Linked DNA regions of Homo sapiens: all the other regions are linked to region 1. The links come from fine-mapping of genetic effects on gene expression. A gene starts in region 1. Each other region holds a variant in brackets. All regions are shown on one strand. Distances are from middle to middle.

What was found.
Region 2: its variant is fine-mapped to the expression of SDC2 in whole blood (TOPMed, PIP 0.92).
Region 3: its variant is fine-mapped to the expression of SDC2 in whole blood (TOPMed, PIP 0.97).
Region 4: its variant is fine-mapped to the expression of SDC2 in whole blood (TOPMed, PIP above 0.99).
Region 5: its variant is fine-mapped to the expression of SDC2 in whole blood (TOPMed, PIP above 0.99).
Region 6: its variant is fine-mapped to the expression of SDC2 in whole blood (TOPMed, PIP above 0.99).
Region 7: its variant is fine-mapped to the expression of SDC2 in whole blood (TOPMed, PIP 0.92).

Annotation. Positions count from the first base shown.
Region 1 is chr8:96,491,374-96,495,896 of GRCh38, reverse strand. It overlaps SDC2 (syndecan 2), which reads right to left and starts at 2,084. Exons shown (of 5, transcript NM_002998.4): 1 at 1,566-2,084. The coding sequence starts at 1,625.
Region 2 is chr8:96,907,628-96,912,150 of GRCh38, reverse strand. The region is part of intron 4 of CPQ (carboxypeptidase Q); the gene reads right to left. Among named protein-coding and RNA genes, the nearest start is that of CPQ, 260 kb to the right of the region's middle. The variant C/A (reference allele first, on the strand shown) is at 2,328.
Region 3 is chr8:96,758,230-96,762,752 of GRCh38, reverse strand. All of the region lies in intron 1 of CPQ (carboxypeptidase Q), which reads right to left. Among named protein-coding and RNA genes, the nearest start is that of CPQ, 120 kb to the right of the region's middle. The variant A/G (reference allele first, on the strand shown) is at 1,898.
Region 4 is chr8:96,643,028-96,647,550 of GRCh38, reverse strand. It overlaps CPQ (carboxypeptidase Q), which reads right to left and starts at 2,309. Exons shown (of 8, transcript NM_016134.4): 1 at 2,149-2,309. RefSeq lists a silencer at 1,885-2,434. The variant G/C (reference allele first, on the strand shown) is at 2,364.
Region 5 is chr8:96,529,062-96,533,584 of GRCh38, reverse strand. All of the region lies in intron 1 of SDC2 (syndecan 2), which reads right to left. Among named protein-coding and RNA genes, the nearest start is that of SDC2, 38 kb to the right of the region's middle. The variant T/C (reference allele first, on the strand shown) is at 2,161.
Region 6 is chr8:96,522,692-96,527,214 of GRCh38, reverse strand. The region is part of intron 1 of SDC2 (syndecan 2); the gene reads right to left. Among named protein-coding and RNA genes, the nearest start is that of SDC2, 31 kb to the right of the region's middle. The variant G/A (reference allele first, on the strand shown) is at 2,662.
Region 7 is chr8:96,347,422-96,351,944 of GRCh38, reverse strand. No RefSeq gene overlaps it. Among named protein-coding and RNA genes, the nearest start is that of PTDSS1, 88 kb to the right of the region's middle. The variant C/G (reference allele first, on the strand shown) is at 2,710.

The sequences.
Region 1 (4,523 bases):
GGAAACACTGATAAGGCTGGGAGTTCTATTTTACAACCTGAGCACCCAAAATACTCATGTAGTCTGTACAGTTTCCAATTCTACATGCTCTCCAACCACAAAGAACGTATGGGGATCTGCTAGCACACACAGAGGCTCCCACACTGATTAAAAATGTCCATCTGCCGCTCGATGCCAAAGAGGTTTCCCAGTCCTAAATTAGCCTCAGCACAAAAAAGGGGGGGAGGGAGACTCAAACTCATAAAACTACCTAAAAGACCTTAAGATGATATAATTTGTCTTTGAAAAGACCATTCAATTAATTAGAAATTGACACGTTATTAAATGGCAAAGGGAGAGGACGTGGGGAACCAGAAGGGCCAGAAACAGCCGCACTCCCTGAGACCCCAGAGGGCACTGAGGCTGCAGACGAAATCTGGGGTGCTCAAGCTTCCACCTGGCCCGACAGAGCTCCTGGCGCCCAGGTGGAGGCAGCTGCGGACGAGAGGAGGCCAAGGAGGCAGTTCCCTTTAGAGGGCGCTCATTGGGCGACGTGGGGAAACAAGCTCCAGCCCCCGAAGCGCGACCAAAAGGAGAAATCAAGTTCCCACCGCCAGGGCGGGGGAGGGAAGCTGGGTGCCGGCAGGCGCTCCGCCGGAGACGAGACTCCTCCCGGCCCCAGAAGCGCCCCGCCAGGGCCAGAGAGGGCGAGCGTGGCGGGAGGGAAGCCTCTGTCCCCCAGCGGCCAGGCGACCCGAAGCCGAGCGCCGTGTCACACGTACCCCGCCTCGCCCTGCTTGCGGCACTCCCGTGTAACTCCTATGAAAATGTCCTCCCGTCCCTGACGCCCCGCGGTGCAACCTCCACCCCTCAACGAGGAGGGGGTCGCCGCAGGACTGGGAATCCAGTGGCCGGCGTCCCAGCATTTTCGGACGCGTTCCGTGCCTCCCCCAGTATCCCCTTGAGGGATCGCCTACTGCGATTCCACGTAGTGTCGGTTACCTCGCCCTAGCCGCAGGGAGCATCAAACAAAAGAACTTTTGCAAACTTTTCTCTCTGGACACTCGCGGGTCTCTTAAATCTGGCCCCCATCTCCCCAGAACTTGCATGCAGTCAAACAGGAAAGCTGGCGCGGGGGGGATGGTGTGCGGAGGAAGGGACCCCGAAGTTTCCAGGTCATCCCTGGTCTCGAGGAGCGCGCGGAGTGGAGCCGTTCCCTCGCGGGCCCGACCCAGGCTCCCCCCTCCTGCCACCCTTTCCCCTCCGTCCTTCCCAGACCACGCAGCAAGACCCGCCGAGGGCGAAGAAGTTGGGAGTGACTTCAGGGGCCTCTGCGGCTAGACCAAACCGCAATTCTCGGTGCCCCCATTCCCGCGGACCGCGGGGTAACGCCAGCGAGCAGCGCTTTTCTGAGGAAGGGAAGAGGGGGAAAGGGTGACCGGACGAGCGCATTTGTCCCAGCGGATCTCCGGTGTATACTTGGGGACTGGGGGTTCCCCAGGTGGCGCTCCCCTATTCCCTGCGGGCTCCTCTCGTAGCTTCAAACACCCTAAACGGCGCGCGCATCCTCCGCCTGGCCCACTCACCGACTCCGCCGACACGCAGGCCACCAAGCCCAAGGTGAGCAGGATCCACGCGCGCCGCATATTCCCCAGGGACCGGCTGCTCCCAGCCGCTGCTTGCAACCAGGGCAAAACGAAGCCTCCTGCCCAGCGCTCGGCGCAGCCCGCGCACACGAATCCGGAGCAGAGTACCGCAGCGATTGCGGCTCAGGCTCGGGGACTCGGGCTCGGGGCTCGGGGGCGCTCGCTTCCTCCTCCTGCGCCTGCTCCCGCCGCCCGCAGCTGCGCCCCGGGAACGCGGCGCCCTCTCACTTGTTGGTTTCTGCACTCCCGACACGGAGTTGGTGCTCCGGGAAGGCTGCTCTCTGAAGCTCTTCTTGCTCTGCTGTGGTTTTGCTCCTCCGCGGACTCCTTTCCCGTGCCGAGGTTCAGTTTCTGGTTTTAAGGAATAAATTCGCTGGCTTGAAAGGGAGCTACGGCAGAAGTTTAGGGGCAGAGCGGCGGGAGCGCGCGATCCGCGCGGCTGGAGCTCCGGGGGTATCTGGAGAGCAGCGCGTCCAAGCGGGGCCACTGGCTCCGCGGCTGCGCCCCTCCTCCTCCCGCGCCGCGCCTCCCTCCCCGGGTCCTCCTCCTTCTCCTCCTCTTCTTTTCCTCTGGCTCCCTCCCTCCTGAGCCTGCTTCTCCGGGCTCCCCTGGGCGACTGGGGAGAGGAGGCGGCAGTGTGACTCCCAGATAAACCCGGGAGAAATTCCTACAGGATTACACGCCGATTGGCAGCTCCGAGGACCAGTGGGCGCCGCGGCTCCGCGCTGTGGCTGCGCCGGCTCTGCTCACCGGCAAGCCAGGGCTCCTGCGTTTTCTCAGTCCTTTTCTTCCTTTCTCTCCCCACTTTTCCTCTCTCCTCTATGCTCTTTTCTTCCCCGTTGTCTTTTCTCTTTCCCTTCTTCACTTTCCCTTTTCTAGAGAACAATTAGTGAAGAAACGAGAGACGTATGTAGCTTTTCTGCCTTGAGAATTCGACCAGTAGAAAGAAACTGCTTTGTGAGTTGAGGGAAAAAAAAAGTGTAAGATGCTTTCAAGCAATGTGAAGTGTTCATAAATCGCCAGTTCATGAAAATTGCATTTTAAAAGAGAAGATAATTAATGTAATAAATATATAGTGAGAGTGTTTCCCATTCTCCCAAATCCTTCCGCACCCCCAAAAAAGGGACATGGAGGAAGGATCCTGTAAACCCAAAGTGCAACAGTTTGAAAGCTCCTAACTTCATTAAGGGCTTAAATACCATTTCTCCCTCACACACAGTTTATGCCACTAAGGCTTTTTATAGGCTCCATTTTAGCAGATAGGTGTTAACGTTTGGAAGCTACAAATAGGGTAATTTGATGAGAAGTTGGATAGAGACCCTGAATAATAACAGATTTAAGATAACTTCAAAGAAAAGAGGGATAAAGTAATTCTTAGTTTGAAGAAAATAATGAACATGTATTTCCTAAATGGAAGTAGCTGACATGAAATATTTTGTTACAATGTCTGTGGCATATTATAGAACATGGCAAATGCGTATTCCCTTCCAGTTTCTTTTTCTTACTGTCACAAATTTTACACACAAATCCCTTGCAGTTCGTGCCATCATTTTTCTCTCTGACTTATAGAGTAAATGAATTATGACGCCATTCTGCTCCTGGAATGCCCACTACAGGAAACCAGAGACTTTTCTGTCTGTTCACCATTGTATTCTCATTCCTGGTACATAAAGACACATGATAAATATTATCTTGAATAAATTTTGCTCTAAAGCTCAATTTATACCGTATAAGAGTTGTGAGCCTTTAAAATACACCAATGTAGATATATAGATATGAGGCCATGGTAATTTTTCAACTCAGTATTAGAATAAAATACAGTCATACCCTCAGTGAGAATTAAATGTCTTAGTAACCTATTACTGTAATAAATCTCAAAGAAAGAAATTTAACTGGAGAATTACAACTCAAACTTGGAGACACTTATTCCTTTGGTTTTGTGTGCCAGCTACCAAACCTACAAATGCTCATGAGCAAGTCTAAGGCATTGGCCAACAAAAAGGTAATATGGAGAAATAGAAGAGTAGGCAAAGGAGAAAGAAGAAAAAGAGCAATAGGCCAGAAGTTGTAACATCAGATGATGCTTCTGATTCCACAGACACTGTAGCTGGCATCTGTGCCAATGTGGGCTCCACTTAGCTTTTGAAAGAATGAACCACAGCCTTTTTTTTTTTTTTTTTTTTTTTTGAGACAGGGTCTCATTCTTGCCCAGGCTGGAGTGCAGTGGCCTGCACTGTAGCCTCTACCTCTCAGGCTCAAGCAGTCCTCCCACCTCAGCTTACCAAGTAGCTGGGACTACAGGCACAGGCCACCACACCAGCTAATTTTTGTGTTTTTTATAGAGACAGGGTTTTCCATTGTTGCCCAGGCTGGTCTCAAACTCTTGGGCTCAAGTGATCTGCCTGCCTCAGCCTCCCAAAGTCCTGGGATTAGACACGTGAGCCACCAGCCTAGTGCCCTTATTTTTAAGATGGAGTCTGTGGGTTGAAGAGGTTCATGAGATGGGGAGACTTCTTAAAAAGGCCTCCAAAGGAAAAGCAGCAATGCAAAATACATGCAAAGAGCCATAAAATACCAGCTCTGTCCTCATAAGAGGCCTCGTCTACTCGCCAGCCTTCAGGCAAGGCCACACCTCCATTGTCCCCAACAGTTAAGTATTCATCAAATAAATTGGAATTCCAGTAAAACAGGAAGTGCACTCCACTGATTTGCTGGTTCTCACAGTTATTGCTGTTTACTGGGGCACCCATGTAACAAGAAGCGTGGTGAATGCTCTCTGATTCAGCTTGGGCAGACAGTGATAAAAAATGAATAAGTGGATACACGTGTTGAAGGGATATTATCTGTTTGCTGCCCTGAAGGCACACCCCAAGGCTCTTGGTGTTGATGAGATGCTCA
Region 2 (4,523 bases), 420 kb before region 1:
GCTTCCTAATAAGAGAAAAACATCACAAATGAATCATTCATCTGGTTCTGGGGGGTCAGAAAGGCAAAACATTGTCCTGTAATTAAGCACTTTGCATGCGGTAGCTCATCCGATCCTCACAGCACCAGCTAATGGGTGGGCACCGTTATCATCACTTTACAGATGGGGAAAGGGAGGCTCTGAGAACTTACTTGACATCACACAGTCAAGCTGCACAGCCAGAACTCGACCAAAGGTCTGGCCGATACTACAGCCTGTGCCCTTACCTTATGAACGATGCTGCTTCTGGGCTGCTTTATAAAACCTGGCTTCAGTAAAATGCCCACAGAAATGGCAGAAATAATAGGGAAATCAGACTAAATCAGGTTACATGGGAAAACCTGAGAATGTCAATATTTACATTCTTTAAATTTGCATGGTTTTCTATACATGGTCAGTAGTAGGGTTTCTGAGATTAAAAGATTTAGTTTTGTTGCCAGGAAGGCCTGATTTTCAGGAAGCTTTATAGAGTGGGCCCTGATGGCTCAGGACCGCATGACAAGAGGAGCATGGGCATTATACAAGAGAAACAGGATGTAAGTAAAACTCAGTGTGATGTCATTATCACCAGGAATCATTGAATCACCCTCTAAGAAACAGACATAACATATGGCCTAGAAGCTGGGAAAGTGCAAAGGGGACTTCTTATTTGGATGAGGGCATTGGCATGAAAAGGCAAGTGCAAGGCCCAAAGACTCTTTTCACACCTGCCACTGTGCTCTCAGACCCCTGGGTGAGAATATGCACCAGCCTGACCCTTCCTGGACTAAACATAAACTTGGCAGGAACAAATGATCAAATGATCCCTTCATTGATGAGGTGCATTTTTGAAGTAGCAAATAAGTCATTTGCATTTTGGAGCAAGGGCTTCTTGTGGTTGATGTCTTATATGTTTTGTTTTGTTTTGTAACTACTTTCGGTGCAAACCTGCTCTCTCCTGCTCCACCTCTTTACTTACCCAGGGGAACCTTCTGGTGGGTAAAAAGCACGTGGATCGCTAAAATATTAATATAATTCAAGAAAATGGTTTTGGTCTTATAGTATTCACATCATAAAAAGTCCTAACTACAACTATTAAATTATAGATAATAATATCGATTTCTTTTTACTGCATCTTTCAGTCCTCTCCTACATGTACTGGTGTAACAGTAAGAGTCCATCTAGTATAGAGTGAAGCCCATATATGGAAAGTCTTAAAAACCTGGTTCAAGTCCTGACTCAGCCTTCTGTGTGACTTCAACAAGATACTTGACCTTTCAGAATTTCCAACTTAAAATAAGAGGAAGGATAAGATTATAACACTACTTCAGCCGGGCGCGGTGGCTCACGCCTGTAATCCCAGCACTTTGGGAGGCCAAGGCAGGCAGATCATGAGGTCAGGAGATCAAGACCATCCTGGCTAACACGGTGAAACCCCGTCTCTACTAAATATACAAAAAATTAGCCAGGCGTGGTGGCAGGCCCCTGTAGTCCCAGCTACTCAGGAGGCTGAGGCAGGAGAATGGCATGAACCCAGGAGGCGGAGCTTGCAGTGAGCTGACATCACACCACTGTACTCCAGCCTGGGCGACAGAGTGAGACTCCGTCTCAAAGAGAGAGAGAAAAAAAAGATTATAACACTATTTCACCTACTTCATGTTAAATGGGAATATACATTTTAAAAGGTACTTTACAGATTTAAAAAGTATCATACACATGATAACCATTGTGGTTATTCATTGTGCAAAAGTACATATCCTTGTACAATGGTGACAAGGATGGAGAAAGGTAGCAAAGGGTCTAGATATGACATAGTAAGCAAAAGCCTTGAAATAGAGTTTTAAAACTACTTCTACTTCAGGTCCACCCTGAACTAGATGTATCATATTGGGCAAGGCATTTAACCTCTCTGGACCAATATCTCTTCATCTATCATAAATGTGAATGGAAAGAAGGGGAAAAAAACCCCACAGACCGGCCACACAATGGCTAGGATTTACTTGTTCCCTCTCATTTAATCCAAACATAGGCTTCATAAGAAGCATCATGTCTCCTGTCATGGATAAAGAGAACTGACACTAAAAACTCAGTGAAGAGGACTCAAAGTCCATGGTGGTGGCTTCAGAATCAAACCTGTTCTGCTGACTCCAAATCCCGTGCTCAACCTGGTCGAGCACTACACAAAGGAAAGGGCAGTCACTACAGCTTTGATCAAGGTGATTTATAAGGGTTTCTTTTAGCACTAAAATTTCATGAGTCTGAAATTTGATTAGTTTTTCCACTTAATGAAAAATAAAAGCCTAAGTAAT[C/A]TGGGTTAAACATGTCTTCAGCTTTTATATCACCTCCCTGTATAAATGTTCCCATATATTCACAGACAGGCAGGCTGGCTACCAGAGTTTCTTAGATGTCCACTCCCAGCTCTCCTCTGGGGGATGACATGACTCATGTCATTGGGCTATTATAACTCATCTGTTTTCACAAAAACAGAGGCCAATAACAGCAGGACAGTCACACCACTGGTTTCCAATACTGTGAGAAAGAGCTGCCCACACATCCCCAGCTCCATGGACAGAAAATAAACACAGCTCTCCCTCTCATTAAAAGGAAATTGCTGAATTTATAGCATGACATTCTCATGGTAAGTATACTGAAGAGAGGGAAAAGAAAACCACTGAAAAAGTCTCCTCTCTGACCAATGCCTGTAACAGAAGAAAAATATTAGAGGAAGGCTGCCTTGTGTTAAGTAGAAAGCCTCTAACTCCATTTTATTTCCACCGTTACTGATGTAATTGTGAATTCCTGCTGCATTTATAATTAAGAAAGAAACAGATGGTAACGCTTAGCATGAAGCAATAAGGAGTGGCCATTAAAACAATCTAGAATGCCAGCGGTTGCATATGATATCAGAGGTTTAGTTTACCATAACAAAGTTTTATATCCATGGGAAAAGAGAAGAGAAATTAAGGTCCTTTCTCTCCCCCAAGATCCATTCACATCACAGCTGCCCCTTCATTGAAGGCACATTGCACATCACAGGCAGATTCCAACTTGTTTCATTGCTGGATACAAAACAGGTCATATCTTGGTTTTATTATAAATTGCCATCACAAGTGGCAAAACAAGAAATCCAAGATGGAACACTGACCAAGCTTTAGAAATACAGTTGGTGAGACACTAGAGAAACACAAGAATCACAAAAATCACACTTGGGTGATGGGGCAGGCTGAGGGTAGAGGGAAAAATTCCAGAATCCTATGGGAATGTGGCTGAAAGCCCAGATCTCTTAGAGAATATAAGGGTCTATGAAATCATGATACAAAAGGAAAATAAAACACCTCTTCCCCAGAATATATGGTGTGTGTGTGTGTGTGTGTGTGTGTGTGTGCGCATGTGTATAAAACTGAAAAGAGAAATAGCTGCATAATTTTTCCAGTAAGGCAAACTTCAATGACAATGCCAACTAGCTATTTAAAGAGTAACCTATCTCCCATTCTCCCACTATACACATGAATGTTTTTGTCTTTGGTAATCAGCTTCCTAAGCAATGTCCCAACCCTCAAATGTGCCTTCAGATTTTTCTCTGAGGTAATTTCATCTCATTGTAGTTCATGCCACAGTTTCATAGGGATCCAGTTCCCATGGCGGGGAGGTCGCTCTCTAAATCCATGAACCTGTCCAAGCAGCAGCTTTCACTGTTATCAATCTGCTTTTGTCCTTAACAGTCTCTGTCACATGCCAACCTCCAGTCTACATCACTAATCTCTCTTGCAAGATGCATTGCAGGAGAGTGGCTTCACCTTTAGAACATCCCAAGGCAGCTAATTATCAGACCTTTCTGTTATGAATAGTACTGCACATCACAGAATAATGAGGAGCAAACCTTAAGAATTCTGAAATATATTGTCAATCTTTTCTCTTTCTGTCTCTCTCTTCTCTCTCTCTTCTCCCTCTCTCCTCTCTCTCTCGTCTCTCTCTCCTCACACACACAGACACACACACACACACACACACACACACACACACACGTTGCAGTGGGGGAGAAATCCAATAAAGAGGCAGTATAGAATAGAATGAAGGGACAGGTGGAGCCTTGGGAACCATCAGTAAAAATGTTAAAAACCTGTGAACTCATTTTCTGCCTGGATGATCCTTAAGAAAATGTTCTTAATGTTCAGAGCCTCCAATTATATGACAAAAGTCACATTTGAGATTCATTATGTCACAACCATCAGAAAAGCAACTAGAAGACTATTCATATTGGCACTTCTGCCAACATTTTCCTATCAACAGCACATTTATTAACAGTAGGATAGGACTCAACAAGTCTTTTCTCATGACCTGTACAGGATACAGGAGGAGAACCCTAAAATTGAGAAAATGGAATACCAGCATCCACATTGCCCAGGATAACTCTCAGGTTTACCTGGGATGCTAGATATAAGCCCATAGAGAGGCTAGGAACAACACATCAAAGGAAACACTGATACTCCACAGCACAGTAGTAG
Region 3 (4,523 bases), 270 kb before region 1:
TACGGTTCATTGAGGGAAAAATTAATAAATTGAACTGAAAGCACTTATAAAGCCTTCTTTCTCCCCCGTAAAACAATCTCAGATGCCCTAGATATAAAACAGACATAAGCAGAGCTTCTTGGGAAGTGGGGCAGAGAGCCTGGATACTATTTCCTTAGTCCCTCCATCACTGTCCCTCTGTAGCCCCTAAGATATCTCTACAGAATGTGCCACCCCAAAGAATAAAATGTGGGAGCCATTGAAATTTATTAACATAATGTTTGGATCTGCCCAAAATAGTAACCAGTAACTTTTATTGAGAGGCTACTATGTGTTACATAATATGATATATGCTTTCTTATATTATTTTCTCTTTTAATCCCATGAGGTAGGTATTATTTACATTCACACAGGAAGAAATTAAGGCTCTCACAGGTGGTCCATGTCATAACTTCAATCTGGACCCAGTTTTGACATCCAAATCCATGCTCTTTAGACTTCCAATGTTCAGGGACACCTCATACACAGTGCCTTCATTCAAACATAAAAGATAAGAACATGAACTTTCTGTGGACATAAACCACTTGTTCAAAATAATTGTCTATTCTTAAAATATGAAACTTTTATTTCCCTAGGAAACTAAATTCCAGCTAAATATGTAATAACCATCCAGGATATACTTCCTATAAAGCCACAGCAGCACGTGATGGTATAATAGCATAGCTATTGAGCAAATATTCTTGGCAAGCTCCCATGCCAGACACACATACTCCTTCCCTGTTACAGAGCAAGTGGCTCACAGAGATCTGTGGCTGATGAATTCTATTAATTTGAAGGCCAAAGCAAGCTAGTTATATTTGCTATGTTCAGAAGGGAGACAGAATGGCAAAATGGTTAGGAAGGTCACACAAATAGTAAAGAGACTGAGCCCTGATTAGACCCAAGGTTTGACGCTATTAGCGGAGGTAACAGTTATAATACTATGTCAACTTTAAAAGTCCTAAGGACTTAATATCACATTATCTCATTTAATTCCCACAACAATCCTGTGAACCAGGTATTGTGAATAAAGCATTAAAAGATGAGAAAGAGGCTTAGAGATGATAAATGATGTGCTCAAGGTCACACAGAAAATCAGGGACAGAACCTTGATTGGTACCCAGATCTGTGACTGCAGAGCCAGATCTTTGAACTACCACTCTAGTCCACCTCTCTCAGTAAGAAGAATAACAAAGAAAACAGGCAAGCTCTTCAGCCTCCCCTTTACAATCGCCTACTCACATTACGTGGAGTAGGGCAATCAATCCACCAGTCACCTTGTAGACCCTACAGAGGAGGCTCCCCATTAGAGAAATCAATCCAGGACCACTGGGAGAGGAACACTAAGGGCGCTTAGAGCATAGGTGCAGAAAGCCCTGCTCTTGAAGGCAGCAAAGTCACATCTACAAGACAGCTTCTCTGTCTGGCAGTTTATCTGCATCTGATGGTCATCACAGAGTTCAGGCTAGCTCGTGCGTATCAGGAGTTGATGTGCGGCTTTCTTCCCACAAGCCAAAAGCTTAACCAGCACAGCCGTTTGTGCTCAAAACTACCTTGGATCAGGAAGGCCTTAGAAGGAACAAGAAAATGCTTGTCACCCACCACTTCCACATTTTGACAATACTGCATTAAAGGTTTAGAAGGAAGGTTTTTACCTGAAAGTCATTAACAGATGCTTATTCCCTATGAAGTTTCAGGCAAAATGCTCAGCCACACCACAGTTTAATCAACACACATCCTAACTGAGACTTTTACAGCTTTAAAGCTGTAAAATCTGGAAGGTTTTGCCTCTCTCTGACATAATTACAAGTTCCATATTTTTGCCTAAGGCTAAAATGTAAATCATTTCCTGGTACACCACAACTTCCTAGCACTGACT[A/G]TATAAGGCAAGGCTGCATAGATTTTGAAATTAAAAACATCATTTTCCTAAATATGCGTGTCATTATGATGTTTACCAATGTGTTTCTGCTGGTTTTTAAGTCCCAGTTCCTACGTATTGCAGTTGAAGGCTGCTGGCATTGTGATATAAGCTAGGCAATGTAGCCTAAAACTTGCCACAGTTTTTCTTCTCTTTGGGTTCTCTTATGAGTTCCTTTATAGGGCTCCAGAGTACTGATTATAATGCATTATAACCACCAGGGTCTAAATTCATCTCTGTTCCTTATAATCCTCCTTAAGCCCTTTAGAAATACTGCTCCTTCTCATTAGCCCTTAAAACATCAACATTAGCCCTTAAAACATCACCACTGAGCCCACTCCTACTTAGGCATAGAGGAGAAAACATGGGCTATAAGGTCTGACAGACCTGACTAAAAATCCTGACTCTTCCACTTACAATCTTGCATACGTTTCTTTACCTCTCTGAACCTGTGTTTCCTCCTCCATAAAGTGGAAATGATAATACCAGACTTACAAGGTTCCTGTGATATGGGTTTTAATGGCCACTGGGCATATAGTAAGCATTCAGTAAATATTAGTCCCTTCACTTTCTCTGCCTTTCTGATCCATACAGCTCCCAATTTTACCTCTGGCAATATGCCCCAGAGCCATAGGAGTCACAAGGAGAGCTCGTAATCACAGCTCAGGGAATCATGAGAACTGGAACAGCCTTTATGAGCTATGCTATGTTGAATATCTTCATAGCTCAGTCCAGTAAAACCATGAGGGACCCACGTGGCTAGGGCTGAGGCCTGAAATCAGGGAAACCTGGGTTCCAACTGCAGTATAGTCCTAGGTATACTAGGACTAGCTGTGTGACTTGGACCAAGTTACGTAACCTCTCTAAATTGCAGTTCCCCTCTATGTAACGGGGGGAATAATAACAATTCCTACTTTGCAGGGTTATGAGGAGTATTAAATGAGAAAATATATACAGAGAGCCTAATATAGTAGCTGGCATGATGCAAATACTCAGTGGTAGTGATCATTTGCTATTACTAGCAGTGATAGGGAGCATGCCCTTGCCATACTAGCTGAGGACATGGCTCCTAGTCAGCATTCCACTCCCTTACTCACTGCATGACTTTGGACAAGTCGCTTAAATGTTCTGCACCTCAGTCTCCTCATCTATAAAACAAAAATGTTAAGAGAATCTCAACATTCTTCATGGTGTTGTTGGGAGTATCAAATAAAATAATGGCATAAAAGCACTCTGTGAGAGATACAGCATAGAAATTTTAGATGGTATTATTACAATATAGATGTAATGGAAATGCTAATGGATGCTAATCATAAGGTCCTTAAGTTCACCAAAAAATAAGTTGGTCTGAATAGGGCTTAATTGAGTACAAAAATATATATAATAATCATCCCAGAAGCATCCATTAGCCAGGAAATCACACTTCGAAGAAGGGTTTTAATGCTTCATACATATTTATGTGGTCTATTTCTGATTTTGGAATTCAACAGCCCATTTTCTTAATACCAAAATCTCTTCTTTACTGGAGGTTTGGGGGAAAGGGAAAGAAGGAAACAAGAAAACAATTTGAGCCTCCTGAAAGCAGATGAAAGGTAGGGCAGGGATGGAGCAAGGTGAGCAGGAGAACAAACCCATCCTGCAGAGCCCCTGGGGCAGCACACTTATTGGCATGGTCCCAGGAGACAAGACAGGTGGCATATTCTTTCCCTCACCAAAAGGCAAGGGAGCAAGAAGATGAGAACTCCATAGAAGACGTCTGAGTTCCAAGCTCTCCGTAGAAAATATTACTCGAACTTTGTCCTTTTCCAGGGTTTACCTTTGACGGAAAAAACAGGAGTAGGAGCTCACTTCTATCCCCATCATTAAGCTGATCAGCTTATCAGTAGGTATGTATGAAACATGTATTATACGGAGATATAAAGAGTGAGACTTGGCTCCACCTTCAAGAAATTGGCTCACAATCTGGAGGCAATAGGAAGACTGGTGAAGGACTTTGGACATAAAAAGACTGGGAGGGAAGCTGAGATGAATTAAGTGGAAGACAATTTAATTCAACTGCCTAGGATAAATTAAAAACACAAAAATGAACAGAAAACAAAAAAGAAGAAGAACTAAAGAAAAATCAATAGGGCTACTTGAGATGCCTAGCTTATCAAAACAGACTAATGGTTGGACTTCTTAACATGGCAGCAGGCAGCAGGCTATTATGTATGATAGGGCCTCCCCCATCTCCCATTATGAAAAAATCATGCACGCATATGTACATGCACACATGCACACACCTTCATTGACTGGCAAAGTACAGAAAGCCAAAGATCAGAATTACTATGAGTATAAAAATTCCATTTAATGTATCATCAGTAATAGGTTGGCAGGTGTAGTTTTAGACCATACATCACATATTTTATTTTTACAACCACATAAAATGGGTGCTTCCTTCCATTCTGGTCTCAAAAAAATATAAGAAAAGATGTTGATTACCCATAGAGTTTACACCATGTTTCAGAAGACAGGGGCTACAGTGGTGAGAAATATAGTGAGCAGCAATCAGTCTTATGGGAACTTTCTTTACTGCAGTCATGGGCTC
Region 4 (4,523 bases), 150 kb before region 1:
TGCTTGAGTTTTGAGTCCTAACTCTCCCATTTTCCATGTACTGTTTCTAGTTAAGAAGATCAAATAGGACTTACCATAGTATCTAGCTCTTAGATATATAGTGATGATTAAATGGGGCAATATAAGTAAAAAGGTTAAATATAACAGTGCCTGGTGTATGGTCAGTGCCCCATAAATATCAGCTTTGTAACATTCCATGCCTGTATGACACATGACCTCATTGGGAAAACAGTGTGAGAAAGTTGGCCCTTTTCACCAAGCAACATGTGTATTCCACTTCTCCTTATAAACTTGAATTCACTGAAGTAGGTAACATTAATTTCATTTTACTTAACACATTTGGAACTTTGTGTTTGTTAAATGTAGCATGCAAAAATATTTAAATATGTATGTATAATGACTTTTGAAGTGCCTTTAAAAAATCTCCAAGGTCCTTCCAGCTCCAAAATGTGATCTATGATAACTAATCTCAAATGCATGCGAAGAAATAGTGATGCAGTTCCCCAGATATACTGGGAATATATGGCATTGTCAGACTGGGTTGCACTGGAAAAAAGTCAGACCCAGGACCAGGAGCCTGTGACAATGTAGAAGAAAATCTTACCCTCCTTTCTCCCCACCAGCCTAGGGTTTATTACACTTATCTTGAGCTCCCAGGCTTTCTTGTTGCAGATGTGGAGAAGAAAGGAAATGAGCTGTAAACAGCAAAGAAGAGAGCAGAGACAAAATGCTATGGGAGGTGAAGTAAGCAGAACTCCATGAAATCATCTGTAATTTCACCTTCTAACCCTGATACAAAAGAATCCCAGAGGTTTAACTCAGGCAGGGTTCCTAGCTAAACATCTTCATTTTGGAGATTAAGAAATTAAAACCTAAAGAGATCAAGTGGCAAGTCCAAGGTCATCCAGCTCTTCTGGAACCTGGACCTGGCAAGTAAGAACGGCTGCAGTGACCAACTGTATTAAAGCTATGTGCTAAGCCTATTTGTTTACAAACAGATAAGCGTCTTTCTGGGCCTTATGTAGCCTTCTTCAGTCACCTGCAAATCAGCCAGCACCTGTCTCAGGAAAACAGACAAGATTCTTAACAACTCTGAATTCAAAAGAAAAGCCTGGTTTTACAAACAAGTCAGAGTCATATGGTTCTGCCTTCAGAGTCACCCTTATCTTTAAGAAATACATGAAATAATATTATAGTGACAATGATTCTTTAAACGTCCAAAGTAGAAGTGAACAAAACACAAGCAAGAAAAAACCTAGGCATATTTTGTTTTAAGCAAACACATATAGCCAAGTCCAACAAAAATGGAAATACCAGGGGGCGTTTCCAGAGACCATTTGAACAGCATAGAACTCTTTTTAAGTGGTCCCAATCAGAATGCCTCCATTTGCAAAAGTGCGACATTCACACAACTTTTTGGAAAGCTATCAAAAAACAGGAGTTGTAAGCCTGCGTCTCCACTGCTTCCACTTCATACATCTTTATTTTCACTCATGCACTGATTGATTCAGCTGTATCTCGTATGCACTCATTTATTCACTTACTCATTTGTTAATTCACTCAGTTCTACGGCATAGGTACTCATTCAATTACTTATTGAGTAGCTCTGAGTCCTAAGTCAGATGGGACTTTGCCCTCATGGAACTTCGATTCTAGGAGAGTCCAGTAGCAGAAACTAGACGCATCAAAAGCGAAAGTACACGGTAAAATGCGAAAGGAACCCCAAAAGAACTGCATAAGGCATATTGGAGGCTCAGGGGGACCAGGATTGTTTGCAGATGGGGGATGAAGGGGGCGGCTTGGGGCTGAGCCCTGGAGCTGAGGGGAAGTGAAACCGTGTTGGGAAGGACGGCTGAGGGCCGTGCTCGCTGCTGTCCCGCAGCACCCTCCACCACCCCCACGTCACAGCTTCCCCATTTCTAGGCTCGGTGACTCCACTGTCACCGAAGGGGCAGCCACAGGCTCCCAACCCGCCGCTCCCCAGCCAGGTCCTCCCGTCACGCCCCCGAATGAGCGATGCTGGAAGTCCGTCCCCCTCTGCCCCCGCCCCTGGCCTGCTCCAGCCTCAGCCCGCCCGACCCCCGCGGGTAGGAGCCAAGGCCTCGGCCCAGCCGCCCGCGGGCACTGCCAGTTCGGCTGCAAACACACCTGATAGGGCGGCTCTGACGGCGGCGACGGAGGCGGCTCCCAGGACTAAGCTCGCGGCCTAGCCTTACGGTGGCGGCGGCCACACCCCTGACTGGGCTGGGGCCCTCCGCGCCGCCCCGTGACTGCAGCCCTGCTTGCCGGCCAGGCCGCGGGGCCGAGAGGCGGGGCAAAGACCTGACTCGGGAAGCCGGGGCGGGCGCCGGGTTCGGGCTGGG[G/C]GCCACCTCCGGAACGCCTGGGGGGTTCTCACTCGCCCTCCAAGGGCGACCTCAGGGCCACAGATCGGCCGGAAGGCTTCTCAGCTTCTGGGCTGTGGCTCCTGTTAGAAAATTGAGTGTCGCCCTGGGTCCCGAGCCCCTAGGCCTGACTCCTTCGTGCAGGGGCGTCGCCTTCAGACTGGGTGGTGCGCAGGCCAGGGCCGCGTGCTTTTCAGAAGCGCAGCCTCAGGCGAGGCGGGCGGCAGGGGCCTGAGAAGGCTCATGGCTTGGCAGAAGGGTCCTGTGCTTCAGTGGGTGCCCGTGCAGGTGGAGAAGGACGGGGCTGCGAAGCTGAAAGGAAAACGTGAAAGGTTTTTGTGTGTCTCTGAGCCTGAGTAAAGGCCATGCTTTCTGAGCTGTCAAACGCCTCCCAAAGGGAAGAGATTATTAAACCGTTTTCCCACCCTGCCAGGTGTAGGATTGTTAGGCGGTGATGATGGAAGGCAGAGATGACCCGAACTGAGAGATCAGAAAAAGCGTTTTCTCTTTCGTTTGTGCCTGAATTATATGAGGGTGCCCAAGAAGAAAGGAGACTCATCTGATTACCCGGTGTGGCTTATCTCAACAAGTCACACGCATTCTGGTCACAGAGTATGTGCTCAGTGTTTTCAATGCTTTATGTTTTGATAAGTGCAAATTCCTTTGTTTAACGAAACTCTTATCAAATACAAACAGTTATCTTTGTGAAACACTGAGCAGTTCCAGTCTCTCCTCTTAACTAAAAAAACCAAACAGAACTTTTAATTAGAAAAGAAAAGAAAGAATAAGCACATGCCTACTGGGAAAAAAAAAATACCATAAAATGTGCAAAGTCCACTCACCTTCGGTTAACAGTCCCTCTAAACCTTACTAGTCCTGTTGCCCACTGAAACAAGTGTGAACTCTGAGGCATTGGAGGGTCCACATAAACATGGCCCTGGCCCACCTTTCCCGAATCATCTCTCGGATGCCATATCTAACCCCACTGAATTACTTTTTTCTCAAACTATCAAGGGTAAAAGACAAGTTTTTATTATTTCCAATCTGACATGGACCATTATTTCTGTAAAATACAAATCAAAACCTGCTAGCAAATAAGAAAAGAGACAAAAACTACAAGCCCAGTTTTTATTACAAGTGTACAATGAGTATGCCAAAAAGTATAAAATTAGTTTTTCAATTATTGGTTGTTGTTGTTGTTTTTATTTCTAAATGCTTACTCACAATTTCTATACTTACCTGTTCATGGAGCAGTAAAAAGCTGTTCACTGACTGGCGGTGGTTGGATTACCGTTTAAGTGGCACTGACTTGCTGTTCTTTAATTATGTCAAATGCTTTTCAACTTCTGGGCCTTTTCTCATGTTTAATGTGAACGAAGTTCTTTCCCACTCAAGTTTCAACTCGTAATAACAATAAAAGCTTCACATTTATTGAGTGCCTTGTGCTAAGATTTTTGATGCATTAACTGTGAATTCTTATTTGTCCTATGAGCTACCTATTATTATCATTATTATTTCCCCCCACTGTACAGATAAGGAGATGGAGGATTAGAGAGGTCAAGTCACAAAACCAGTGAGGTACAAAGTCAGCATTAAACTGAGCTGGCCTGATTCTGGAGCCCAAGCAATCAACCAACATGCTGGGCCCCTCTCTGTGAAACCTCCCCCATTTGCTTTCAAGTTGAAATTAATCACTCTTGCTTACACCTCTACTCTAACATTTTTTCCCGTTGGTTTTCATTCATGTCAGCTTCCCACGCTAGGCTTTAAGCTTCTGAGTACAGTGAATTTGTCTGCTCACACTAATCACAGGAAGCAGAGCTCATTCGCATCTTTGCATTACCACTATCTTTTATGCTTACTTCATGATATGTTTTAATTATTTATTCTTGTCAGCATCCTCTACTAAACCATACAATGTTCAGAGTTATCTTACCAAAGATGCTTTTATTTATTTAATTGAATAAGCATTTCTATAGCATGTATAATGAGCCAGGTACTATTCCAAGAATTTTAAAACCTCGCAAATAGACCTATAGATATTATTTTATCCCTCTTTAAACTGTGAGGAAACTAAGGCATAGAGAGGTTGCAGTAAGTTGCAGGACCAGAATTCCAAACCAAGCAACCTGCCTGGCTCCA
Region 5 (4,523 bases), 38 kb before region 1:
CAATCAGCACTCTGTGTCTAGCTAATCTGGTGGGGACTTGGAGAACCTTTACGTCTAGCTAAGAGATTGTAAATACACCAATCAGCACCCTGTGTCTAGCTCAAGGTTTGCAAATGCACCAATCAGTGCTCTGTGTCTAGCTAATCTAGTGAGGACATAGAGAATTTTTGTGTCTAGCTCAGGGATTGTAAACGCACCAATCAGCACCCTGTCAAAACAGACCAATCAGCTCTCTATAAAACAGACCAATCAGCTTTCTGTAAAATGGACCAATCAACAGGATGTGGGTGGGGCCAGATAAGAGAATAAAAGCAAGCTGCCCAAGCCAGCAGTGGGAACCTGCTCGGGTCCCCCTTCCACACTGTGGAAGCTTTGTTCTTTTGCTCTTTGCAGTAAATCTTGCTACTGCTCACTCTTTGGGTCCACACCACCTTTATGAGCTGTAACACTCACCACGAAGGTCTGCAGCTTCACTCCTGAAGCCAGCGAGACCAAGCACCCACCAGAAGGAAAAAACTCCAAACACATCTAAACATCAGAAGGAACAAACTCTGGACACGCTGCCTTTAAGAACTACAACATTCACCGCAAGGGTCTGCGGCTTCATTCTTGAAGTTGGTGAGACCAAGAACCCACCAATTCTGGATACAGTATGTACTTAAGAAAAAAAATCCCTTTAGCAAAGATGAACTCAGAAAAATGTGGGCCCATTTAGGGCACAGGGCCTATGCTGCTGGCACTTTGCTAGTCTCTTACACCAGCTTACAGCACCTCTAGAAGATGACTCCAACCTAGAAGACCCATCAGAGAAGGTGAATGCATAGCCCGGATGTACTCAGCCATTAAGTGCGGGCTAGGGGCTGCACTCAGCCTGTCTGAGTTCACAGCTCTTGCTCTTTCCCTCACAGTGTGTTTTTTTGGGGGGATGGGGGTGGCAGTGATAACTGAAAAAGTGTCATGCTGTCTGGGTACTCATTACATGCATTCTTAGTCTAATGTCTAAAGTTGGAATCTTTACCCCTCCCTTCTGTTCCACAACACTTCTGCAAAAGAATGACTGGAATTTAACGTTAACTAAGGGAAAAAATATTTTACCCATGTCCCTGGAGGTAGATTTTCTTTCTTTTTTTTCCCAAACAAAGCCCTACCAAAAAAAAAAAAAAAAAAAAAAACGCCTCAATAAGCAGAGAGACTCAGGGGCATCTGGTAATAATAATCCTATTCCTTAGTGCCCCAAGAACTCAGTTAGGCAGCGACTATTTTTATAAAACCTGAGACTGACAAAGCAGGGTGGGTCTTGTTTATACCTGGAGGCCCCCTTACTGCTCCCTGTTCAATGACAACTCATGGCAGCTATTACTAATAATGGTGATGAAAACGGCCCACATTCACTGTACTTATTTATCATATTTATTTCTGTGTGCACTGGGTGTTGTTCAAGACTTTGCACTAACTAATGCATTTAATCCATATAACAATCCTAGCAGGTAGGCAGCCTGTCCTTCACTTCACAGATGAAAAAACAGAGGCAAAAAAAGAGATTATAGAACTTCTCCAAGGTCAACCAGCTGTTAATGGAAGGTGTCGCTAGTCTACAGCTACCATCTTGAGGTCATGGTGGAACAAGTCACTCTGATGTTACAAACCTAGCGCCATAAACTGTCCTGAATTGGCACATAAATTTTGTGGTTCAGACAAAGAACTGAAGATGAGATGCCATGTTCCCATGTACATCTTGGTTGACACACACATAAATATATGTAAGGCTGAACCAAGCCCTCATTACACTAGAATCAGTGAATCATCATGGGGTTGAAGGAGAATTTAGAGATTACCAGAACAGATTTATAAAACCACGCCAAGTAACCACGGTTTCCTAATATTCTTAAAGGGTTTAAATAGTTGATGGCAAAGAAATCTAAGGATGGAGGTAGTGGTGAGTCATTAAAATGTTTACAATTTTAATTTTCTTTTCCATCTTACTTTTCTCTCTTTTATTTTTTAAAGTGAGGCAACTGCCAGCATACAAGTTTCATAGCCTGAGTACATTCTTTGTGTAAATAAAATTTTTTAAATCATTTTTACATATGTTAGACTATTTTTAGCATCGTAATCTTAATTTTTAACTTGAATTTGGGGTTTAAAAGAGCCTTTTATTCT[T/C]TAGGTTGTCCAAAAGAGATATATCTATAATTTACTAATATTAATCATACTTCTCCATATACAATATGGCAGAGGTAAACCTTTTGGAAAAACGTGCCCTATAAAAGTTCTAATGTACTGTAAGAACAACATAATGAGGCATGCAATGTAAAAGAGAAGTTATATTAAACTCCAGTTTCTGAAATGCTCAAATTCTATTTATCATAATGTCACTAATTCACTGTGTAACCTTGAACAATCTACTTTACCTCTCTGGGTCTCGATATGTAAATGCAGATGTGTCTCATCTGTAAAATGGCAGGGTTGGGTTAGATCACAGTTCCCAACTGGAATGCCCCAGGACAGCTGCGCCAAGGTTCTGATGCCCATCAGCCCTCAGGGGAGCTGGACACAGCCTAGGCTGGAGTCCTCAGATCCACTACCTCCAGCCAAGAGCAGTCATTTATTTCCCCAGGGTGTGCTGTGCACCTTTTCAATGTGTGCCATGATGTGAAAATGGTTGGGAAACACTGGATTAGATGACCCTGAGGTCCATCTTAGCTCCGCCATTCTGTCAGTCTTCCCGAGATTTTAAGGCTTCCTGAGATACTGCCCATGGCCAACTGTTATGTGGTTCTATAAACTGCAATGTAGGGCACAGTGCTTTATAAACAATATAAAACAATATTTCTTATTATCTTCATTTGTTATCTATGCTCAGAAAGTTAAGGTACACTGTAAGGTCCTAAAATGTTATATAAAGAAAGTAACTTATATTTTAGCAGGTTTTTTTGTTTCGTTTTGTTTTGTTTTAGACAGAGTTTTACTCTGTCTCCCAGGCCAGAGTGCAATGGTACGATCACAGCTCACTGCAACCTCTGCCTCCTGGGTTCCAGAAATTCTCCTGCCTCAGCCTCCCAAGTAGCTGGGATTACAGGCACCCGCTAACACGTCCAGCTAATTTTTATATTTTTAGTAGAGACGGGGTTTCACCATGTTGGCCAGGCTGATCTCGAACTCCTGATCTCAGGTGATGCACCTGCCTGGGCCTCCCAAAGTGCTGGGATTACAGGCGTGAGCCACCGCGCCCAGCCTAGCACCATTTTAATACTAACAAGGTGGTGGTATATTCTGATTTTTATAAGTAATTATGTTATGGCATATTAACATAGCTATTAATCATTCCAAAATTCTGCTGAAAGGTTATAATGACAATTAGTTTTCTAATTCCCCACATGCACTCCACCCCATGATTTAGACAAAACAATCACAATCAGAGAATTAAAATGTTAGGAGTCAATGAAAAGTAACCCCTTTAGGAAGTCAGAGAAAACATCATTTAAGCACCTTTAATGTATATAGTGTTTATCTCAAAGTAAAGCAAAACCAAAGGGCAGAGAAAGTCTACTTCCCCCCGCCCCTGCCACTAAATCTGGTTTAAACTAATAGGTTGGAAAGTTTGAAGCACATCATTCCCAGAAAGATGTAAATAAGCAGAATAAAGCTGGGAGAGGGAAGGCGGTAATGCCTGAGGAACTAGATGGGCTGGCATATGAGGGACCAGTTAAAAATGGAATCTCTGTGGCTCAGCTAAGTGGGCACCGGAACTTCTAACCATATACACACCAGGGATTGAGAAGAACAAAGAAGGAAAGGAATTATCAGCAATTCAGGGGTCACAGGGAAGGGGAAAAATAAGGGAAGAAAGCACTGAAGGAGGGAGATGGAGAGGAAGACCTTTGGGGTCAGCTGCCCCAAGTAAGAAGGCTACTCACTCACTCTACAAACAGGCCTTCTGCTCAAAGCTTCTTCCTCACACCTGAAACCAGCCTTGAAAGTAAGCACTGAGCAAGAAACCTTGGAATGAAAATATCCCAGGATATTTCCATAATGTGAAATGGGTCCATGTTTGCCGTTTTATTTTTGTTAGATTCTTAACTCTGACAGCCATAGCCGTCACTCGTACTCATGGAGTTTTTAAATGTAAAAATGGGTACAGGTTGGGATTTGTTTTAAATAACTTTTCTTATTTAAATTTAACAAATTCTTAACAGTAAATTTGAATGAGGCGGAATATTATAAATAAGCAAATAAAAATTACCTGTAAGTCAATCACCAGAGATAATTACTAATAACATTTTGATGTGTTTTCTTCCATTCATTTTTTAACATACCTATTGAATATTGACTGGGAAGGACGAATGGTTCACTGTGATGTCCAAAATTATCTCCTCTTCCATGTAGCTCTCACCTCTTGAATTTAAAAGTAAGACAACTCATTATCTAAGAGTGCATTGAGAGTGATTTGTGGTACTATTTTCCTTGGGAAAAACAAATGGCTGCCCTTGGGTGGAAGTAACTGACCTAGGGCCTCCACCCCAGCT
Region 6 (4,523 bases), 31 kb before region 1:
CAAACCTGTCCCTAAGCACGGTCTCTCTTCCCACCACGTCAATAGGCAGAACGTGCCTGCCCTCTTCCCCCTGTGGAGTGCAGTATTTACTAAGCACCTACTATGGATAGGTCAGGCACCATGCTAGCTGCTGAAATAAATCCTGGATGGGTCAATGCCAAAAATTAGCAGGAGACATGGAGAATGAAGAATATGACTCTGACATCCAAAAAGAGAGCCAAGTATTGGGAACAAGAGTCACCCAGACATTGGGAACAGACTGTTGTACAGAGCTACCACCTCCCTAGAGGCTACTTACCTGTCTGCTCCAAACCAGTGGCCAGCCTCCGTAACTCCCCTGCAGGTCCGAGCCTCCCCTGCACCAGAAAACAGTACCACTGGCCTTGTTCTACCAATGGATCGTCAGGGGAAAATCAGGAGCCCTGGCCACAGCTACACAGGGGTCAACACACAATCCAAGTTTTAGTTCCCTGACTTAACCCTTCAACGCTTGGTCTTTGAGGAGTACACCAAGTATTTATGAAGGCCCTTAAAAACTGTCCAAAAAAAAAAACCAAAGGCCTCTTTTCACTTTTACTAGCTTGATTCTTTAATTTTCACCCAATTCCTTCCTCCTCAACAGTGGTTTCCATAGTTCTCTGGGTGCAACCTGCGTTGGCCTTCCTGCAATCTGGAAAAGATCTTCTGTCTCCCTGCCTCCTTGAAAATAGGCAGACATTTGATCCACTTTTTTAAACTTCAAGGAGGGAGAGAAGAAGTTTCTGTAACTATAAAATATTTGGTCCCTCCACTTACTGGAAATATGCCACATAACAAGAAACATGAAACAAACAATCGTATAACAACTGGGTGGTTTTTGCAACCGCTTTAAGGAGATCAGCTTGGTCCTTTTTCCTATGTAAAAGTATTTGTGATGCTTCATTACAACAAAACTTCAAGTATTAGCTTTATAGAGGCCTATTTAAATTCAGAATCACAAAAAATCAGTACATATTCATAGAATTCTAACTTCCTTATGCCCATAACAAACATAGGTGCAAAGCCACTTTGGGGAGGCCCACAGGACCGAAATATCAGGAAAAGAACCACAAGGCTAAAACATACCTGGCCCTGCACCATGCCTGGCCCGCACATCCAAAAGCCATGACTAACTCTACCATTTGACGGTTAAACTTGAAGCCGTATGCTTAGCTTTGATAAGCCTCCATTCAAGGTCTCTGGGACTGACTTTGTTCATTTTTGAAACAGGTCAATGATGCCTACCCCACAAGGTTCCTGTGCGGCCCCACCCTGACAATGTGTGGAAAGTACTCTGTAAATAATGTCGTCCCAGACCCTTTTCCGGAGGCTTTCATTATCTTAGTTTTCTTCCTGAAACCGCCCCTTTCAACTACATGAATTTATGGTCTTATTCTGATTTTATATGTGGAGAAACTGAGACCCAAGCAGTATTTTTTCCAGGAAAAGAAAACTCCAACAAATTAAGAGATGCCCTCGGAGATCAATAAAGACTTGGGAATGCAGTTTGCCAGTAAGGTAACATCTTGGACAAGTCCTTTAACCTTTCCGAGCACCAGTCTGAGTTCAACTCACCAGCCTGGAGGGTAGACAAGCTGAAGAAGGTTTTGTCACCAGAGAGCTCTAAAGGAGATGGCAAACACTGGAGGAATTGGACCTCATATAAAGCAGCAAGGGCAAGAACCTTCTCCATGCCCCCAAGCAACGCACAAAGTAAGCCCAGGCAGGATGGGGTGCAGCCTCACTCTAATGGGAAGGGGGCTCTGATAAGGAACTTGTCCAGTGACCTCAGCATGGCACTCCAGTGCCACTGGAAAACAAGGCCTGCAGGTGGAAGTGAGCACAGGTGGGAGGCAGCTGTTAAAAGAGGAGCAGAAAGGAGACTACAGCAGCACCAAATGGGGTGGCTTCCCAAGGCCAAGCACAGAAGCTTCTCTAGGACAGCCAGGATCAAGACAGTGCCAGTTCCTGCCCTAAGTGATGTCACACATCAACCGGAAGCCTCATCACAGAGTGGGAACGGACAGCCTTGAACATTTCAAGAACACTTGGGCACAGGCCGAAATCACACCTGAGGTTTGCATGCAGAAGAGAGGGAGAGCAGGGCTTCCAATCATTCCTCTGGAATGAGCTGAAAGTACAGACTACGATTTTACATTATTGTGACCCAATTATTCCAGTATCTTCATAGCTCATATGGAGATCCATGTAACCCGACAAATAATGGCCAAAGTCTTGTCTCACTCAAACTGGTTCCACAAAAAACTGCAACTGATAAACCCTCAAACCCCACATCTTCCCAAGATTGAGCAGTAAACCACACAAAAATATAAATAGGAACCACCCACTAAAGTGCACAAATGATACTATATTAGGTCTCATTGAACAGCCCAATGAAGCCTGCAGTATTTATTAGGTGGAACCACAGCAGTGCTCTGACTTGTATTGGAAAGGAGAAAAAAGGAGGAGGAATGATTTCTAAATATGACTTCAGCATGTTGATAATAAGCTTTCCGGCACTGGTTCATTACGCCAGCCACCCTGCAATCATTAACCCCAGGTAGCAGTGGGGGAGCTAGGACAAAGAAACCCACTGCTTGCCCAAGGAGATTTCCTCATGCTGCCTTCAACAACAACTTTTAG[G/A]AAGTCATAACTCCCCCTTCTGAAACCAGAGGAGTTGATACCCTAAACTGGAATATATAACTGAAATTAGTTCTGACCGGTCTTAATTAAATCTTTGTAGCCAGTTGTCAGTGTGCTTGAGATTTTTCAAAATCTCTCTCTCACATGCTCAACAGATGTGGGTGGTAATCAAAGCCAAGCTGATCGGAGCTGCACAGACAGCGAGCAGCAGCTCCCCCAAACGAAAGGTCAGCCATGATAATGACATCCCCAGAGTGATGTATGTGCACGTTAAGAAGTTAAATCTCATGAAAAGAATGTCCAATAAAGCCATCAATTTTATTTTAGGTTCATCTGGCTGCAATTTCTGCCTACAGTCATCTCACTCCAGGAAAAGTCAGCACCGTGCAGGCACCTGGATTCACTTCGGGGTCTCTGGTATATGAACTATGACATTCCACACATAGTTTCCCAACGCAAGTACTGAAATATCTGTGCCCTACTTCTTAGCTCACTGTCTGTAAAACATTCCTTGCCCTTTGATGTGAAAGAAAAATACTCCACTTTACAACATTATCCTGGACTGGACTTCTTTTTTGAAAGAAGCCTAAAACAACACCACCATTGTGGCCACCCTGAGTGTCTGTGGCAACAACCAGAGAAGAAATAATCTTAAAGTTACCAACACGTTGAGCAACTTTACACCTACCTAAATCCTACTCCCCTGTATGATATTTTAAGGGAAAAGAAATCATTAGCAGAATTTCCCACAATTATCTTTGAAAAAAAATCCGCGTCTTTTTTTGGATGGATTCTTGTACCAAATACTTAAGCATTCCTCTGTCTTTAAAGCACCAGGGTAATCTGTTATTAAATGCACGTTTAAACCAACGTTTTATAACCTTGCTGCTGTTTTCAATGAGTCTCCGCCTCTTCCTACCAGGCATTTTGGGCTATAATAGCAGTCCCACAGCCACCTCCTACTGAATAATTATAATAGTGGGCCAATTAAACTAATCACCTTTCCACATATTTTTATCCGGCTTACAGATGTAAATCTCCCCCAGAATGCCGAGAATGAAAGGTTCCTCCCCAATAGCACCTAGGACTCCAAGAGTTACCCCTGGCAGAGATCCCATCCATTAGGGGCAACCTTAATGCTCAACCAAAACTAGTAAGTAACACATTCAAATATGCGATATTCATATATATTCACCACACACTCATCTTTCCTCTTCCAAGAAATCTAAAGGATTCATGAACTACTTCCACAGTACAAAAGTTTAACTTCGTGGTTTAGCTTAAGCAGCAAAACACCACCAAATCCTCTAAAAAGCAATTACCAAGAATGACAGTGCTGAACAGTGCGGGATTTTAGATGCTCAGCAATCCACTGTATGCATTTTTTGAAGGAAAAAAGATTTTAAAGAAAGATTTCAAATTCAGAGGTTTATCACTGTTGCATGAACCATTTACTATGGAGCAACTAACTGAATTAATAACTCCTCGGAGAAATTTTTCTTGATGACTCACACAGAATCTTCTGGCTCTGAAAGGGAGGATACGTTTCCATCCAAACGCCAAGTAACAAGCAGTGAAAAGGAAAAATTCCAACCCTAGGCAAAAGCAGCAGGTGGGAAATACACTCATTTGTATAAAGCTAATCCAGAAATAGCCATTTCCCCTTTCTAGATAAAGCCACAACCTGAGGAATGTTACTTCTTCTGGTCAGGGTGACAATTTGGAAGCAGTTCATGGACCAGATTTATTTTACACCTTACATCCTGAAACTGCTCTATCTTGTTCTCTAAAAATCCAATTATATAACTTAATGACTATTTCAAATATGGATCATAGATCCTTAAGCTATTTCCCTTACCTTA
Region 7 (4,523 bases), 140 kb after region 1:
TTATGACAACTCTATAATAGTCAAACTCATAGAATCAGAGTAGTATAGTGGTTATCAGGGGCTGGGTGGGGAAGATTGGGGGGGTATTGTTCAAAGGGTACAAAGTTTCTGATATGCAAGATGCATAAATCTGGAGATCTACTGTACAACATAGAGCCAACAGTTACAATACTGTATTGTATAATTAAAAATTTCCTCAGAAGGTAGATCTTATGTTAAGTACTCTTGCCACAAAAGAAAAAAATTTAATTAAAATAAATAAATACATAAAGGAGGCAGAAGGCAACTTTTGGAGGTGATGGATAAGTTTATGGCTTTGATTGTGGTGATGGTTTCTTGAGTGTATTCTTATCCCCATTAAATACATACAACTTTTCGTATATCAGTCATACTTCAATACAGTGGTTTAAAAAATAAGGTATACAATTCAGTGGTTTTTACTATATTCACAGATATGTGTAACCATTACCACAGTCAATTTTAGAACATTTTTATCAGTTCAGAAAGGAACTCTTGTACTTTTTAGCTATCACTCCACCTCCACTGCCCCCTCCCTGTAGTCCTAGGCAACCACTAATCTACTTTTTTTTTTTTTTTTTTTTTGAGATAGGGTCTTGCTCTGTCACCCAGGCAGGAGTGCAGGAGGACAATCATGACTCACTGCAACCTCAATCTCCTAGGCTCAAGCCATCCTCCTGCCTCAGTCTCCTCAGTGGCTGAGACTTCAGGTGCATGCCACTATGCTGGGCTAATTTTTTTGGTTGTTTTTTTTTTTTTTTTTTGTAGAGACGGGGTCTTGCTATGTTGCCCAGGCTGGTAGTGAACTTCTGAGCTCAAGCAATCTTCCTGCCTCAGTCTCCCATTAGTACTGCCCACCACTAATCCACTTACTGTCTCTACAGGTTTTCCTCTTCTGGAGTTTCATATGAATGTAATCATATAACATGTGGCCTTTTGTGACTGACTTCTTTCAAGTGGCATAGTGTTTTTAAGGTTCATCCACATTGTGGCATGTCAGTACCTTATTCCTTTTTATGGACAAACAATATTTCATTGTATGGATGTACTACAATTTGTTTATATTTGTTTACCTATTCATTAACTGATGGACACTTGGGTTGCTTCCACCTTTTGGCTGTTGTGAATAATGCCGCTGAGGTTAATAATAATGAGCCTTGAGGATGTTACGATGAGAAAAATAAGTTAGTCACACAAAAAAGATAAGTGTGATTCTACTCATACGAGGTATCTAAAGTGGTTAAATTCATAGAAACAGAAAATAGAATGACAGTTGCTGGGAACGAGGAGGGGTGGCAAGTGGGGAGTTGTTTAATGGGTAAGAGTTTAGTTTCACAAGTTTTTTTTTTTTTTTTGAGATGGAGTCTCACTCTGTCGCCAAGGCTGAAGTGCAATGGTACCGTGTCAGCTCACTGCAACCTCCGTATCCTGAGTTCAAGCAATTCTCCTGCCTCAGCCTCCTGAGTAGCTGGGATTACAGGCGCCCACCACCACCCCTGGCTAGTTTTTAAAAATATTTTTAGTAGAGACGGGGTTTCACCATGTTGGTCAGGCTGGTCTCGAACTCCTGACCTCAGGTGATCCGCCCACCTCAGCCTCCCAAAGTGCTGGGATTACAGGTGTTAGCCACCACACCCAGCCTAGTTTCACAAGTTTTACATGATGAATGAGTTCTGAAGCTCTGTTGTACAACAATATGAATATATTTAACACTACTGAACTGTATACATAAAAATGATTAAGACAGTAAAATTTATGTTATGTGTTTTTTACCATAATTACAAACTTTACAAAGCATCTGTGCTTTATTCTCCCTTACTTTCTTGTCGGCTATCTTGCAGTTCAGGCCATGGTCCATGCTGGGCTAGGCCTAACCAAGGTCAGGACCTATCTGGAGGGGCTCACAGGGCCCCCGAGGGAATGCTCATTTGGACACTTCCCCTGTTCTGCAGAGCACAACAAGAGGGTGATGGCAGGGCCAATTCTCCAGTGGCCACAGCTGGAGGCCCCCTCGGTAGCCAGCAGGGGCAGACTGCACACCAGGTACTCCCCATGAGGATGCCTCAGACCAGCTTGGGCCTTGGCATAGATTTTCTGGCTAGGCTAAAGTCATGCCCACTTCAGTCTCTCCATTTTTGCTCATTTCCAATTGGTTCCTCTTTGTGCCAATCATATACGCTGCTAGGAATGGGAGAATAGACTTAAGAAGGCTTTGGGGTATAAACAAGAACACTGTTTAGGAGAAAATGTTTTGAAACAAGTAGGTGCAGGAAGAACCCATTTGTTCCTATGCCTCTTACTGTGTAGTCAGAAAACCCCTGTATAAGTATTAAATAGATTTACATTCACTCTGGTAGCAACAACAAAAATAATTCTATCTGCCATCTACTGTATACTTACTGTTTTTCCAAGGACTTAAAACAAACTTATTTCATTTCATCTGATAAAGCTAATATTACTATCTCCATTTCATAGATGAGGACATAGAGGCCCAGACAGAAACTTGCCCAAGAAGTAGAGCCAAGATTTGAATACATGCCTGTATGAGTCCAAAGGAGTCATACAGTATGAGTTCAAATATATGCCTGTATGAGTCATTATGAGTAATGACTCACAGTCATCACTCTACGCAGACCTCTCTTATTAGTCTATTAACATTTATTAAGTGCCCACTTTGGACAAGCTCCTGAA[C/G]GAGGCTGTAATGTGAACACTAATAGAGGAGAGAGAAAAACCCATACATGGGGAATGGCCAAGGAATAACTTTAAGTAAGTACATATAAGTATCACTGTACTATACATGAATGGGGAGGGTGAATATATGAGTTAACTACATACAGAAGAGAACAATAAATAGTCTGGCTGTATCTTTGAATCACAGGATTTTAGAGTTGAAAGGGATCTGGGGGGTCATCTAATCCCACCTCTCACCCCAAACAGAGATCTCTTCTACAAGTATCTGTGGAAGTTCCAGTGTCAACTTAAAGGCAGTGAGCCAGTTCTTTTGATTTCCAGGTTTTTGGTTATTATAAAGTTCCTGCCTTTCATCACCAAATCTGTCTCCCTTTGGGGAATTCTCCTATTGGTCCCAATTTTCCCCACAAATCTATAGCAAATAGTCACCCTTCTCATTGCCGTGACTGCCATTCTTCACATGGATAAAGGGAAGACAAGCATGTGTTGACCACTTACTCTGCTCCAAACACATTCCAATAGTGCCACTCAATAGGGATGATGGTTTCTCATCTAAGGACTCTGAAGAGTCATTAGAGACATTAAGAGTCATTAGAGATATTAAGAAACTTGTCTAAGTTACACAGTTGGAAGTACTGGAGCAGAGATTTGAACACAAACTCACCTCTTTTCTACTACACTACACTGCCTCTCAAAGCCAGTTGTCATCACCATGCTCCTCATCTTCTCTTATAGACCATCTAAATATCCCTGGTTTCTACAGACTTTCCTTCTCAGCATACAAGTTCTCTAGACCTCTCCTGATGTTGGTTATTCTCTGAACAGGCTCCAGTTTGTCAATGTCCCTCTTGAAATGCACCATAAGACCAGAATTCAATACCCAGTGTGGCCAGACCATCCTGCCTAGCTTGCTTGCCCTGCACGCCATTTGCATGCCCAGGATGGCTTCGCTGACTTAAGAAGCATAGTAGACCTGTCACACATTTGGCTTGGGCTGATCTTGATGTAGCTGCAACCTGGGTCTTTTTCATATGAGCTGGTTTCAAGTCACATTTCATCCATCCCTTACTTACACCATTGCTTCTAATAAGTCTCAATGGGATCCTGTTGGATTCATTTATTGGTTTTGAGAGAGTATTTCAATTTGTTAAACAGCATATTCGCTGCTTCTCTGGCTTTAGGCTATCTGAACATTTTAAAAGTAAGTCTTCAATGTTGTGATACAAGTCACTGATAAGAATGTTGAACATGCCAGGACCAAGAGCAGAGCCTTGAGACATCCACTGGACACCTCCAACAGGGTGGCAATTCATCGATTAATTAATGCTCTTTCAGTACAGTTGTCTACCCAGCTGTGATTCCAGTGAGTTATTTTTAACTCCACATTTCATTTCTCTACCTCCTCACAGTTTATGTAATAAAAAGCTTTGCAAAACACCTGCTGGAATTCATCCAAAACATCCTCTTTTTTTTCCGAGTGTGTTCTGTAGAATGCTTGATCAGTGGGATGGTATTAAATAGGTTTTTTGGTGCAGGACTTCTCAGAACCTTTAATGTGCTAATGTGTCCTGTGAATCTTCAAGAGAAACTACAGTAGCACACTGTGTTTCTCAAAGTTGAGGTAGGTCCTTTATTTTATTTTATTTTTGCTTAGGTGGGATTTGTACTCTGCTCTTTGCTCATTTGTAGTATTCCCTTGATCTACCAATCTGATAACTACGTGTAAAAGCAATACAACATTAGCTCTGCATGGCTTGTTCTTAGTGAACCTCTGCTAATGCCCAGTGATCAATGCTTGCTTCTATAAAGATGGT